Linked DNA regions of Homo sapiens. The protein of the gene in region 2 interacts with the protein of the main gene of each other region in a pairwise test. Each region holds a gene or a part of one and is shown on either strand. Other genes may lie near its edges.

The links. Proteins that work in one complex are often made in the same cells at the same time.
Region 1: the proteins of PTGIS (region 2) and PTGS2 come close enough for resonance energy transfer, tested with the Homo sapiens proteins (one study listed by BioGRID).

What each region holds. Positions count from the first base shown.
Region 1 is NC_000001.11:186,670,962-186,677,423, reverse strand, and holds the end of PTGS2 (prostaglandin G/H synthase 2 precursor), read left to right. Parts: intron 1-507; coding exon 508-591; intron 592-710; coding exon 711-957; intron 958-1,239; coding exon 1,240-1,526; intron 1,527-2,027; coding exon 2,028-2,175; intron 2,176-2,661; coding exon 2,662-3,071; 3' UTR 3,072-5,633; downstream 5,634-6,462. UniProt on the Homo sapiens protein: Dual cyclooxygenase and peroxidase in the biosynthesis pathway of prostanoids, a class of C20 oxylipins mainly derived from arachidonate ((5Z,8Z,11Z,14Z)-eicosatetraenoate, AA, C20:4(n-6)), with a particular role in the inflammatory response.
Region 2 is NC_000020.11:49,543,501-49,551,554, reverse strand, and holds part of PTGIS (prostacyclin synthase), read left to right. Parts: intron 1-1,365; coding exon 1,366-1,489; intron 1,490-3,535; coding exon 3,536-3,714; intron 3,715-7,106; coding exon 7,107-7,250; intron 7,251-8,054. UniProt on the Homo sapiens protein: Catalyzes the biosynthesis and metabolism of eicosanoids. Catalyzes the isomerization of prostaglandin H2 to prostacyclin (= prostaglandin I2), a potent mediator of vasodilation and inhibitor of platelet aggregation.

The sequences.
Region 1 (6,462 bases), on a different chromosome or scaffold from region 2:
ACATACATATGTACAGGTATTGTTATTTGTAATTTGACCCTTGTATTTTTTAGTTTAAAATGTTAGTACTGCAAAATGTTATGTCCTCAAAAACACATTGTACCATGATTATGCCGCTTTCAATATTGTAAAGTGAGGTTTTTGCCGCATTATTATTTTTTGGATTTCAATAGCATAGCTTCAAGTTATTCGTAAGAATTTTTTATAAATAATACATTTTTATACTTTTTTATAATTACCATATCATCATAGTGAAGTATATAATATATATGATATAAGCTCAATATAGTATATTAATTCCGTTAAACACAAAGACATATCAGTTTGTAGCTTTGGTGGATAAACAAATTAATTTAGCAATTCATGGCTATGAAAAATGTATATTTTATTTAAAAATTTTAAAGAAAGCTAAATGATCAAATTATTTAATGATGAATTATATGATAGACACTTTATATAAGAAAAACTTCAACAGCAACAAATTAAAATTTTTTCATCATTTTCTAGGTGGACTTAAATCATATTTACGGTGAAACTCTGGCTAGACAGCGTAAACTGCGCCTTTTCAAGGATGGAAAAATGAAATATCAGGTATGCTTCCTTTGACTATTAAGACTTAGTTATTACCGCTTATACCCATATTTTAAAATCCCTAAAAATGTGTTCCTTAACTTTTTAACTGATGTTTATTTATTTATTTATTTTTTTAGATAATTGATGGAGAGATGTATCCTCCCACAGTCAAAGATACTCAGGCAGAGATGATCTACCCTCCTCAAGTCCCTGAGCATCTACGGTTTGCTGTGGGGCAGGAGGTCTTTGGTCTGGTGCCTGGTCTGATGATGTATGCCACAATCTGGCTGCGGGAACACAACAGAGTATGCGATGTGCTTAAACAGGAGCATCCTGAATGGGGTGATGAGCAGTTGTTCCAGACAAGCAGGCTAATACTGATAGGTAAACAAGAAAATGATTTATATAAAACCCTCTTCCCCAGGGAAAATTAGTGTGCTATCTTTGTTATGTTTTGAGTAAATGACAAGATGTGGTAAATGAAAACTCACACATTCTATATACATTAAATATGTAAGCATGACTGATAAAATAGCTATCTTTTGATACTGACAAGGAAGAAAACAGAAATGAAGGAATAGCAAATTTTAAAAATTGCATTCCAGTTGCTTGAAAGCTTGTGATCAGATGCAATAAATGTTTTTATTATTTATTTTGTGCAAATAGGAGAGACTATTAAGATTGTGATTGAAGATTATGTGCAACACTTGAGTGGCTATCACTTCAAACTGAAATTTGACCCAGAACTACTTTTCAACAAACAATTCCAGTACCAAAATCGTATTGCTGCTGAATTTAACACCCTCTATCACTGGCATCCCCTTCTGCCTGACACCTTTCAAATTCATGACCAGAAATACAACTATCAACAGTTTATCTACAACAACTCTATATTGCTGGAACATGGAATTACCCAGTTTGTTGAATCATTCACCAGGCAAATTGCTGGCAGGGTAAGCATTATTATTGAAAACCAAAACAAAAGACTAGTCAGTAACTTTAGAATTTCTGCCACGGAAATTATTTTTCTTAAACTTACTAAAAGAGTAGTTAGTTATATTGCTAGTAAAATTATTTTATTGATATAAGAAGCCTAACTTTGTTTGAAAAGTCTAAACTTTTAGTCTAGTCTACAGTTGTCAGACAAATAGCAAATTGTACCCCTACCTTAAAAATATTTTCAAAAAGTATCTATAATCTTATAGGAATAAATATTTTAGGCTTGAATACTAGTGTTATTTTTGAAATGTAAAAAGGCAAATTAGTTCTAGGCTGGTGTCCCATTGAATTTTAAGCAGAGCTCCTGTTGAAATGTAGGTAAGCATCTTTCCAGCAAATAAAAATTGTCTCCGCTGGGAGTTTCAGTTTTACCTGATTTGTACCTAAGGCAAGCTGAATACAAACAGTAAATATGCCTAAAATTCTTGTTTTACAACTAATTTTACTTTCCACAGGTTGCTGGTGGTAGGAATGTTCCACCCGCAGTACAGAAAGTATCACAGGCTTCCATTGACCAGAGCAGGCAGATGAAATACCAGTCTTTTAATGAGTACCGCAAACGCTTTATGCTGAAGCCCTATGAATCATTTGAAGAACTTACAGGTAAGAAACAGTTTCTAAACTTCTTCGTTTTTTGTTTGTTTGTTTGTTTTTGTTGTTTTTGGTTTTCTTTTCGAGATGGAGCCGCCCTCTGTCACCCAGGCTGGAGTGCAGTGGCGCCATCTCGGCTCACTGCAACCTCCGCCTCCTGGGTTCAAGCAATTCTCCTGCCTCAACTTCCTGAGTAGCTGGGACTACAGGCTCACGTCGCACGCATGGATAATTTTTTGTATTTTCAGTATAGACGGGGTTTCACCGTGTTAGCCAGGCTGGTCTCAAACTCCTGACCTAGTGATCCGCCGGCTTCGGCCTCCCGAAGTGCTGGGATTACAGGCGTGAGCCACCGCGCCTGGCCCCTAAACTTCTTAAAAGAATCAGGGGTCAAATGGAAACAGAGAAGTTGGCAGCAAATTGAGCAAAAGAATCAAACTGTTTTTTATTTTGTGAAGTTTGACATTGGTTGTATCTCTGTCTTCATCGCCTTCACAGGAGAAAAGGAAATGTCTGCAGAGTTGGAAGCACTCTATGGTGACATCGATGCTGTGGAGCTGTATCCTGCCCTTCTGGTAGAAAAGCCTCGGCCAGATGCCATCTTTGGTGAAACCATGGTAGAAGTTGGAGCACCATTCTCCTTGAAAGGACTTATGGGTAATGTTATATGTTCTCCTGCCTACTGGAAGCCAAGCACTTTTGGTGGAGAAGTGGGTTTTCAAATCATCAACACTGCCTCAATTCAGTCTCTCATCTGCAATAACGTGAAGGGCTGTCCCTTTACTTCATTCAGTGTTCCAGATCCAGAGCTCATTAAAACAGTCACCATCAATGCAAGTTCTTCCCGCTCCGGACTAGATGATATCAATCCCACAGTACTACTAAAAGAACGTTCGACTGAACTGTAGAAGTCTAATGATCATATTTATTTATTTATATGAACCATGTCTATTAATTTAATTATTTAATAATATTTATATTAAACTCCTTATGTTACTTAACATCTTCTGTAACAGAAGTCAGTACTCCTGTTGCGGAGAAAGGAGTCATACTTGTGAAGACTTTTATGTCACTACTCTAAAGATTTTGCTGTTGCTGTTAAGTTTGGAAAACAGTTTTTATTCTGTTTTATAAACCAGAGAGAAATGAGTTTTGACGTCTTTTTACTTGAATTTCAACTTATATTATAAGAACGAAAGTAAAGATGTTTGAATACTTAAACACTGTCACAAGATGGCAAAATGCTGAAAGTTTTTACACTGTCGATGTTTCCAATGCATCTTCCATGATGCATTAGAAGTAACTAATGTTTGAAATTTTAAAGTACTTTTGGTTATTTTTCTGTCATCAAACAAAAACAGGTATCAGTGCATTATTAAATGAATATTTAAATTAGACATTACCAGTAATTTCATGTCTACTTTTTAAAATCAGCAATGAAACAATAATTTGAAATTTCTAAATTCATAGGGTAGAATCACCTGTAAAAGCTTGTTTGATTTCTTAAAGTTATTAAACTTGTACATATACCAAAAAGAAGCTGTCTTGGATTTAAATCTGTAAAATCAGTAGAAATTTTACTACAATTGCTTGTTAAAATATTTTATAAGTGATGTTCCTTTTTCACCAAGAGTATAAACCTTTTTAGTGTGACTGTTAAAACTTCCTTTTAAATCAAAATGCCAAATTTATTAAGGTGGTGGAGCCACTGCAGTGTTATCTTAAAATAAGAATATTTTGTTGAGATATTCCAGAATTTGTTTATATGGCTGGTAACATGTAAAATCTATATCAGCAAAAGGGTCTACCTTTAAAATAAGCAATAACAAAGAAGAAAACCAAATTATTGTTCAAATTTAGGTTTAAACTTTTGAAGCAAACTTTTTTTTATCCTTGTGCACTGCAGGCCTGGTACTCAGATTTTGCTATGAGGTTAATGAAGTACCAAGCTGTGCTTGAATAATGATATGTTTTCTCAGATTTTCTGTTGTACAGTTTAATTTAGCAGTCCATATCACATTGCAAAAGTAGCAATGACCTCATAAAATACCTCTTCAAAATGCTTAAATTCATTTCACACATTAATTTTATCTCAGTCTTGAAGCCAATTCAGTAGGTGCATTGGAATCAAGCCTGGCTACCTGCATGCTGTTCCTTTTCTTTTCTTCTTTTAGCCATTTTGCTAAGAGACACAGTCTTCTCATCACTTCGTTTCTCCTATTTTGTTTTACTAGTTTTAAGATCAGAGTTCACTTTCTTTGGACTCTGCCTATATTTTCTTACCTGAACTTTTGCAAGTTTTCAGGTAAACCTCAGCTCAGGACTGCTATTTAGCTCCTCTTAAGAAGATTAAAAGAGAAAAAAAAAGGCCCTTTTAAAAATAGTATACACTTATTTTAAGTGAAAAGCAGAGAATTTTATTTATAGCTAATTTTAGCTATCTGTAACCAAGATGGATGCAAAGAGGCTAGTGCCTCAGAGAGAACTGTACGGGGTTTGTGACTGGAAAAAGTTACGTTCCCATTCTAATTAATGCCCTTTCTTATTTAAAAACAAAACCAAATGATATCTAAGTAGTTCTCAGCAATAATAATAATGACGATAATACTTCTTTTCCACATCTCATTGTCACTGACATTTAATGGTACTGTATATTACTTAATTTATTGAAGATTATTATTTATGTCTTATTAGGACACTATGGTTATAAACTGTGTTTAAGCCTACAATCATTGATTTTTTTTTGTTATGTCACAATCAGTATATTTTCTTTGGGGTTACCTCTCTGAATATTATGTAAACAATCCAAAGAAATGATTGTATTAAGATTTGTGAATAAATTTTTAGAAATCTGATTGGCATATTGAGATATTTAAGGTTGAATGTTTGTCCTTAGGATAGGCCTATGTGCTAGCCCACAAAGAATATTGTCTCATTAGCCTGAATGTGCCATAAGACTGACCTTTTAAAATGTTTTGAGGGATCTGTGGATGCTTCGTTAATTTGTTCAGCCACAATTTATTGAGAAAATATTCTGTGTCAAGCACTGTGGGTTTTAATATTTTTAAATCAAACGCTGATTACAGATAATAGTATTTATATAAATAATTGAAAAAAATTTTCTTTTGGGAAGAGGGAGAAAATGAAATAAATATCATTAAAGATAACTCAGGAGAATCTTCTTTACAATTTTACGTTTAGAATGTTTAAGGTTAAGAAAGAAATAGTCAATATGCTTGTATAAAACACTGTTCACTGTTTTTTTTAAAAAAAAAACTTGATTTGTTATTAACATTGATCTGCTGACAAAACCTGGGAATTTGGGTTGTGTATGCGAATGTTTCAGTGCCTCAGACAAATGTGTATTTAACTTATGTAAAAGATAAGTCTGGAAATAAATGTCTGTTTATTTTTGTACTATTTAAAAATTGACAGATCTTTTCTGAAGATAAACTTTGATTGTTTCTATACATCTTTGTCATATGACATAAGATTTCTCTGAAGCATTACTCTTAAACCATTATCTTGCATTCTCCTACCTATTCAAAACTAGGACTGGCCCTTCATGAAATGGTTTTGCCCTCAATTATATAGAGGCTTCCTAGAGTCACTATTTAAATCTCATAATCCTTATTCACTGCGACACTGTGTTGGAAAATGTCTAGTTTGTGTATCTTTACAGAAGATGGCAAACAAGCTTATTTTCATTGCCTAGTCTAGAAGAAGAAGAAAAAAATACACAATAAGGCAAAGAATAAGACATATATTATGAAGGGGGCACAAAGTTAAGAAGTTCAAAGAGGAGGAAATTATACAAAGTTGGGCAAATCATTGATGCAAAAGCTCATAGGCTTTTGTTGTACCTCTATCCTTGACATCTTGGTAATTTCAATATCTACATGGACCACATATTTAGCATCTTCCCTGGCCTCTCCTCTTTGGCCTTCTCCATTCCAGGGATGGCCTCTTCCACCATATTTCCTGAAATCATACATATCTTGATATCATTATGATTAATTACAGCACCACTTTCAAAATCTTGATTCCAAGCATCTTCCAGCTCACCTATTTTATTGCTTACACTCTAACATCTAACTCTCAGTCTCACTGAACCTACCGATCCACCAACCTCATCACTTCACTATTTATCACCTGTTTTATCTTTCCATTTACTTCCATATGCATCTAGCTCAGATTCTATTGTCCATCATTCTAATCATTCCCCTCTGCTCTGTATATTCTCCCTCTACTGTGCTGAATTGACACAAGTTGATTAAATCCAGCCATTCTCCTAATCTG
Region 2 (8,054 bases):
GACAATATACATTTGTCCAGTCCAGAAAGACAGGACAACTTGATGTGGGGGGTGCTTCCAGGTTATAGGTGGATTTTAAAACTTTCTGATTGGCAATTGGTTGCAAGAGTTATTGTCAATAGAAATAAATGTCTGGGTTATAATAAGAGGTTGTGAAGACCAAAGTTTTCTCATGCAGATGAAGCCTCCAGGTAGCAGGCTTCAGAGCGAATAGATGTAAAGGTTTCTTATCAGACTTAAGGTCTGTGTTGATATGAATGCTGGAGGGTATAATGAGTCATGTCTGACCCCCACTTCCCACCACGGCCTGAACCAGTCTTTCAGGTTAAATTTTATTTTATTTTTTTTGAGACGGAGTCTTGCTTTGTCGCCCTGGCTGGAGTGCAATGGAGCAATCTCAGCTCACTGCAACCTCCTCCTCCTGGGTTCAAGCGATTCTCCTGCCTCAGCCTCCCGAGTAACTGGGACTACAGGCATGCACCACGACCATGCCTGGCTAATTTTTGTATTTTCAGTAGAGATGACGTTTCATCATGATGGCCGGGCCGGTCTTCAACTCCTGGCCTCAAGTGATCCACCTGCCTTGGCCTCCCAAAGTGCTGGGATTACAGGCATCAGCCACTGTGCCTGGCCTGCACTTTACCATCTACAAAGCAGGAAAAAAAACTTCAAACTTGCCTTCCTTGTTGGAAGTGAGTTGAAACTCCAGAAGGGAGTTACGTGCTCTCCATCGTCATGGAAGCAGGAAAACTTGCCTTCCTTGTTGGAAGCAAGTAATACTCCAGAAAAGGAGTTGTACAACAAAATAAAACTTAGCTCTCAAATTGTAGCTCTCTTAGATCTCAAATTTTCAGAGATTCGGGATTCTCTGCAGCAGGGAGCTCCCAGCCCTACTGGTTTGACCAATGAAGACAGATACCAAGCTGTTACCAAACACCAACAGGAGATTTGTCAAAGGCCAGGGCCACCTACATGGAGTCCCTTCATGGTCGCCAATTTGTAAACTAAAAAGTATCTAAGCTAGGTCTCAATCAATTTAGATGTTTATTTTACCAAGGTTAAGGACAATGCCAGGGAGAAGAAAAACCACAGAATCACAGAAACAGTCTGTGGTCTGTGCCTTTCTTCAAAGATGACTCTGAGGGTTTCAGTATTTAAAGGGGGAAAAGTGGGCTGGAGGGGAAAGAGGGAGGGTGTGGTCATCCACATGTTACAAGAGAAAAGGAGCAGGTGAGGCAATAGTCCCCGAGTGCTCCATTCAGATTACCTCCCCGACTGCTCCATTCAAAATCACACTCTGCAACCTACACTCTTTATGCCCTTCCTTGCCTTATCAAATGGTGACAAGTGCCATGGCTTCTGTAGGCGACCTGGTGAGCCTCCCCTGGACCTGGGCAGCATCCCCTGGTTGGGGTATGCCTTGGACTTTGGAAAAGATGCTGCCAGCTTCCTCACGAGGATGAAGGAGAAGCACGGTGACATCTTTACTGTAAGTGCCTCTTGTGCCTCGGGAGGGATGGGGATGAGCAGCTGGGCCTCATATCTGGTTTCTGTTGATTCCTTCAACATATGTCCCTATGCCAACCCCCCCACCCCACCATCCAACATCCATCTGAGTGGTCGAGCCAACTTTCTATCCAGCTGCCTGTCCAGCTGCACTCTCAATGCTGACCTAACATCATCCCTTCAGTCTCCCTCTTGCTCTTCCCAGCGTGGAGTTATGCAGTCACTCAATATCTATCCAATACTTGTATATCCATGCAGCTGACCTCCATCTATCCATTCCATTTCCATCCGTTCAACATCCATCTTCCCATCCCATTCTTCTGCCTGTCCACCTGGTGTCTACTAAGCGTCCTTCCATCCTTATATCTACTCAGCATTCATTCGTCAACCTCCGTCTATCCACTCACCCATCAGTTTTTCCATAGATTCACCCGACATCTGTCAATTCATTTATCCATCTTCTATCCCTTCATGTGTCTGCCCAGATCTACCCAGAGTTCTTCCACTCATGGATCCAATGTTCATCCAACTTTCATCTGTATACAGTTGGCCCCCTGTATCCATGGGTGGGTTCCATATCTCTGGATTCAACCGGCCACGAATTGAAAATATTTGGGGGAAAATGTGTTGGTACTAAACTTTTTTAGACTTTTTTGTTGTAATTCTTCCCTAAAAATATAGTTTAACAACTATTTATTTAGCATTTACATTGTGTTAGGTATTATAAGTAATCTAGAGATGACTTAAAGTATATGGGAGGATGCATGTAGGTTATTTGCAAATATTATGCCATTTTAAATCAAGGACTTGAGCATCCATAGATTTTGGTATCTGCAGGAGGTCCTGGAACCAATCCTCCATGGATACTGAGGGATAACTGGTCAGTTTCCACCAACTTTCATTTTTCTGTTTATCTACGCATCTTTCTGTTCATCTGCCACTATCCACCCAACACTCAGCTATATTCAGTATTCGATGTCTCCCCACTGGATATACATCTATTTATATCTCATCCATCCATCCTTACAACATCTATTCAAACGACCACCACCCACCCACCTTCCATGTATCCTTCCAACTTCCATCCAATCAACATTCATCCTTCACTTTACCCAGTATCTACCTAGCATTCTCTCATCCATGTACCCAACATTTATTGGTACATTTGGTTTCCAACCAACCTCTAGCTGCCCTTCCATCCATCTTTCCATCCAACATAGATTCATTGATCTATCCTTCCATTTATCCATCTATCTAACATTGTATCCACAAGTATTTACCCAGCAATTTCCTTCCTTCCTTCCTTCCTTCCTCCCTCCCTTCCTTCCTTCCTTCCATTCATTTACCCATTCACCAATCCATCCATCTGCCCATTTACTCTTCTACAATCCACCCACTGGAATTTACCCAACAGCATCCATCCATCCATCCATCTATTCATCCATGTATCCATTCATTCTTCCTTCCATCCATCCATCCATTCTTTCATCCATCCATCCATCCACCCATCCATTCATCCATCTACTTATCCATCCATCCTTCCTTCCATCCATCCATCCATCCATTCTTCCATCCAACCATCCATCCATCTATCCATTCATCCATCCATTCATCCATCCATCCATGATGTGCACAGGATCCATCTGCCGCCTTCTCTCCTGGCTACTGGAGATATGGCAATAACCAAGATAATCATGGCAGGTGCTTAAGAGTGAGGTGGTAGAGAACACAGTCTTTGATTTTAAAAAGCCTCAATATTCCCAAATTCCAGTCCTAGTCCTGCCACTTCTCAGCTATGAGATCTTGGGCACATTTCTTCTCCTTTCTAAGCCTCACTTTTTCAGCTATAAATGGGTGAGTGATGGTCCCTACCTCACAGGGTGGTAGGTGGTAGTGAGGCATAGATAAGAGAACATAGTGTGTTACTGTCCAGTGGGGCAGTGCCTGGCACACAGTAAGGCCCTGACCACTGAGAGCGGCTGCTGTTCACAGTGACACTCCTCACTCTATCCCTGGCAACTTCCCACAGATACTGGTTGGGGGCAGGTATGTCACCGTTCTCCTGGACCCACACTCCTACGACGCGGTGGTGTGGGAGCCTCGCACCAGGCTCGACTTCCATGCCTATGCCATCTTCCTCATGGAGAGGATTTTTGATGTGCAGCTTCCACATTACAGCCCCAGTGATGAAAAGGCCAGGATGAAACTGTGAGTGGCTGGAGATGGCACCTGTGGGAGGGCCAGGGTGGGCGACTCATTTCTACTCATGTGGCCCAAGTTATTCTTGGTTCCAAAGCAAATGTTCGGTAAAGACATTTTGTCTTGAGAACACAAACAGAAACAAAACAAAAAACAACCCAAAAGAATTGGGTGGAAGAAGAACTCTTTGTCTCTCATCTCTGGCGGGTTTTTTTGTTTGTTTGTTTGTTTGTTTGTTTGTTTGGAGGCAGCCCTGATTTTAGTAGGAGGAGACCAGGGTTTGGGTCAGCCACACCTAAATTCAAATCCCAGCCCCATCACTCCCTAGCTTTGTGACTTTGGACAAACCTCTTTCCCTCTCTGAGCCTCTGTTTCCTCCTCTGTAAAATGAAGGAGAGAGGTGGAATGATGAATATTTCTGAGTCCATACTCTGCCAGGCAGCATGCATTATCTCATTAGTCTTCACAACAATGCTGGAGGCTAAGTAACTTACAGCCCCATTTCATAGATGCAGCCACTGGATCTCAGAGAAGTGACTTGTCTCAGGCCACATAGCCAGAAGTGGTACAGCTCCTGAAACATATGGAGGAATCATTTTATTTTATTTATTTATTTTTGAGACAGAGTCTCTCTCTGTTGCCCAGGCCAGAGTGCAGTGGCATAATCTTGGCTCACTGTAACCTCCGCCTCCCGGGTTCAGGCGATTCTCCTGCCTCAGCCTCCCAGGTAGCTGGGATTACAGGCACGTGCCACCACACCTGGCTAATTTTTGTATTTTTAGTAGAGACAGGATTTCATCATGTTGTCCAGGCAGGTCTCGAACTCCTGACCTCAGGTGGTCTGCCCGCCTCAGCTTCCCAAAGTGCTGGGATTACAGGCATGAGCCACCATGCCCAGCCACATATGGAGTCATCATATCAATAAGAGAACAGATGAACATGTTTGCTCTGCATTCATTCAGCAGACATCTGAGGACCCATTGTACCCTGGTCATTGCCCTGGATGTAGGGTGTGCAGAACGGTGCCAACCACCATTTGAAGGCAGCTATTATAGGCCAGGTGTCTGATAGGCTCACTTTCATATCTGTGCATTAGCCTAAAGAGGTGGGCATTTTTATCCTTATTTTACAGATGAGGACACTGAGGCTCAGAGAGGTGAAGTGACTTGCTCAAAGTCTACTGCTAGTAAGTGGCAGGACTGGGATTTGAACCCAGGTCCACTGACTTCACAGCGCATTCTCCTTCATCTAAGATACCAAGGCTGATAAGACCCTGTGTCCGCCCCTGCAGAGTTCACACAGTCCAATGGCGATCTTCAGTGATCTGTCTCCAGGAGGAATACCCTCTGGAGGTTAGGAAGAGCATCTAGGAAACTGTTTTGCAAGATAGTTAAGGCTGAAGCAAGGCCAGCATGATGAAGTGGATGTTGATGAGACATGATGCCTCCTCTGAACCTTGGCCTGGGGGCAGCTGCTTGGAGCCTGAGTGTCCTGGGTCCTGACATTCCAGGGGGACCCTGGGGGTCCCATTAGCAATAGGAATCCACAGCTCACTGAATCTGCCCCTGCTACCCAGGGAGGATCCCAGTTTCCTTCAGTGTTTGCCTCAGGAATTTTCTGGAATTTCTTACAAGCTGGCGTGATGTCTTCTGGGCACAGCAGCCACATCTGTTGAGGGCTTGTCTCTGCTGAGGACCAGCGCTTGGAGTGGGGTGGGGAGAAGAGCTGGGTCAGGGTCCATTGAAGGCCAGATCCCATGTATTGAGCACTTACAATGTGCCAGGCACCGTGCGGAACCCTTCACATGCATTGTCATACATGAGTCATGAGCCATGTCTGTCGTTTTTCCCACTATGTTCCAACTTGAACATCCCAAACCTTTTCATACCCAGGAGTTCATGGACGCCCTGTGCAAACCCTGCCCTGGTGGATTACCCAGGCACTTCTGGCTTACTCAGTCTAAAGGTGTCCATCCTACTTCCCAAACAGCAGTCCATCCTACTTCCCAAACAGCAGGCATGACAGATCAGGGCCCTGATTGGCACTCTCCCACTGTTCTTGTTGCTGCCACTAGGTGTTGCTGTTGACCATGGGCTGTGCACCGCCCATGGACACCCCACTTCACTTGCTGTAGGGATATCCTTTTTGGTCCAGATCCTACACAAGGAGCAGAGAGGCCTTAGACTTAGATGCAAGATACCCCTTTCTTGGCTTCTAATCATATCCTCAGTCATGGCTCAGTGTAGACTCCATATCATGGAGGCTCAGTATAGGGGAGCTTCCAGCTTCTGCCACACTCTTCCAGACGGGGCCTCTCCTCACTCTGTGCAGGTCCACACGATGGGACCAGATCTCCAGCCCACATCCCTTTTTCCTTGTGTCACTCTCATGTGAGGTCATGTCTTTTTTTTTTTTCTTTTCTTTTTTTAAGACACAGAGTCTCACTCTGTTGCCTAGGCTGGAGTGCAGTGGTGTGATCATAGCTCACTGCAGCTTCAAACTCCTGGACTCAAGCAATCCTCCCCACCTCAGCCTCCTGAGTAGCTGGGACTACAGGCACCTACTACACATCTGGCTAGTGATTCTTTGTGTATTTATTCTATTTTTGTAAAGGCAGAATCTCACTATGTTGCCCAGGCTGGTCTTGAACTCTTAGACTCAGGCGATCCTCCCACCTCAGCTTCTCGAGTAGCTGAGACTACAGGTGTGAGCCACCACCCCTGGCTAATATTTTATTTTTTGTTGAGATGGAGTCTCACTATGTTGCCCAGGCTGGTCTTGAACTCATGGACTTAAGTGATTCTCCCACCTTGGCCTCCCAGAGTGCTGGGATTACAGGTGGGAGCCACCATGCCTGGCCAGGGTCACATCTTATTGGCAGTCCTGAGTCAGGGAACACCACAGCTATTCCAACAGATCTTCCTATCTTTAGATTTCAGGGAGAGATGAGTTGCTTTTCAGTTCCTTCTCTTCCAGAACGCTATGGGTCCCTTATCCAAGCTGTGTGCCTTAGGGAGGGAAAGACTCTCCTGGTTAAGAATTCAGATGCTGGAGTTGGGCAGACCAGGATTTCAGTCCCGCTTTGGCTGTGTGACCTTGGGCAAGTCACTTTCCTCTCTGTTTCTGAGTTTCTCCATCTGTAAAATGGGTGTCATAATAGTAACTCTTATTCCCAGGTTTGTCTGAAGACGAAATGAGATTAGGCTCAGTATAACAGATGGGAACTATTGTTGACGATGACAGTCATAATAATATCCTCTTATTTAAGCTACTCTTCCGCAGGACCTCTTTGCCAATGGGGAGCTTGAGCTCTGGGACCCTTAGGTTTGGGGAGGGAGGTGCCTGTAGGTGTGTATTTCCCTTTGGAAGCCAAATTTTCATGCTTTTGTTTCCTGCCTCAGGACTCTTCTCCACAGAGAGCTCCAGGCACTCACAGAAGCCATGTATACCAACCTCCATGCAGTGCTGTTGGGCGATGCTACAGAAGCAGGCAGTGGCTGGCACGAGATGGGTCTCCTCGACTTCTCCTACAGCTTCCTGCTCAGGTGAGGCTGTGCAGCCCCCACCCTCCTGCTGGGGCCCGGCACTTTGACCTGTGTCAGCCATGAGCAGTGGCCAAGGGAACCGTGAGGACTCTGTGGGTGGGGGAAGCAATTTGAGACACCCAAAGCAAAGACTGTAGGAAAGACGCCATGCACCAGGGCCCCGGCTGTTCATCTGACCTAGCTCATGAACTGTAAAAGGAGACACTGGCTGGAAATGGGACCTTACAGGTCATTCAGAGAGGAAGTCACAGAGCAAGACTTCAGAGGTCATCTTGTCCTGTGGCTTCCAGACTTTGGGATTTCACAGAACAGAAAACAAAATGTTTGGGAGATCAACTTGGGACCTTAACCTTTTATCTGGTCTTGTAAATGTATGTTAAAAACTGCACAACCGAACGTTCCTTCCTTCAGCAGTGCCGGGCACTAATCCAGGCTCTGGGGATACAGCAGGGAACAGGACAGATGAAGTCCCCAAATTCACACAGCTGACACTCCAGTGGGGGAGGCCGAATTGAGTTATGTCAGAGAGTGATAAACACGATGACAGAGATCCACGGGTGGGGTGACAGCATCTGGGGGGCTTTCTTAGGCCGACTGACGAGGCAGGGTCATGCTCTGGGGGTCTGGCTTCTGAGCCAAGACCTAACTGCAAAGTGCCCACCACGCCAACACTCTAGGCAGGGGAAACAGCAGGTGCAAAGGCCCAGAGGTGGGAGGAAGCTCAGAGAGACGGCCAGTGTGGCTACAGCATAAAGAGCCAAGGAGGGAAGGTGGACAGGAGGTCAGAGAAGTGGGCAGAAGCAG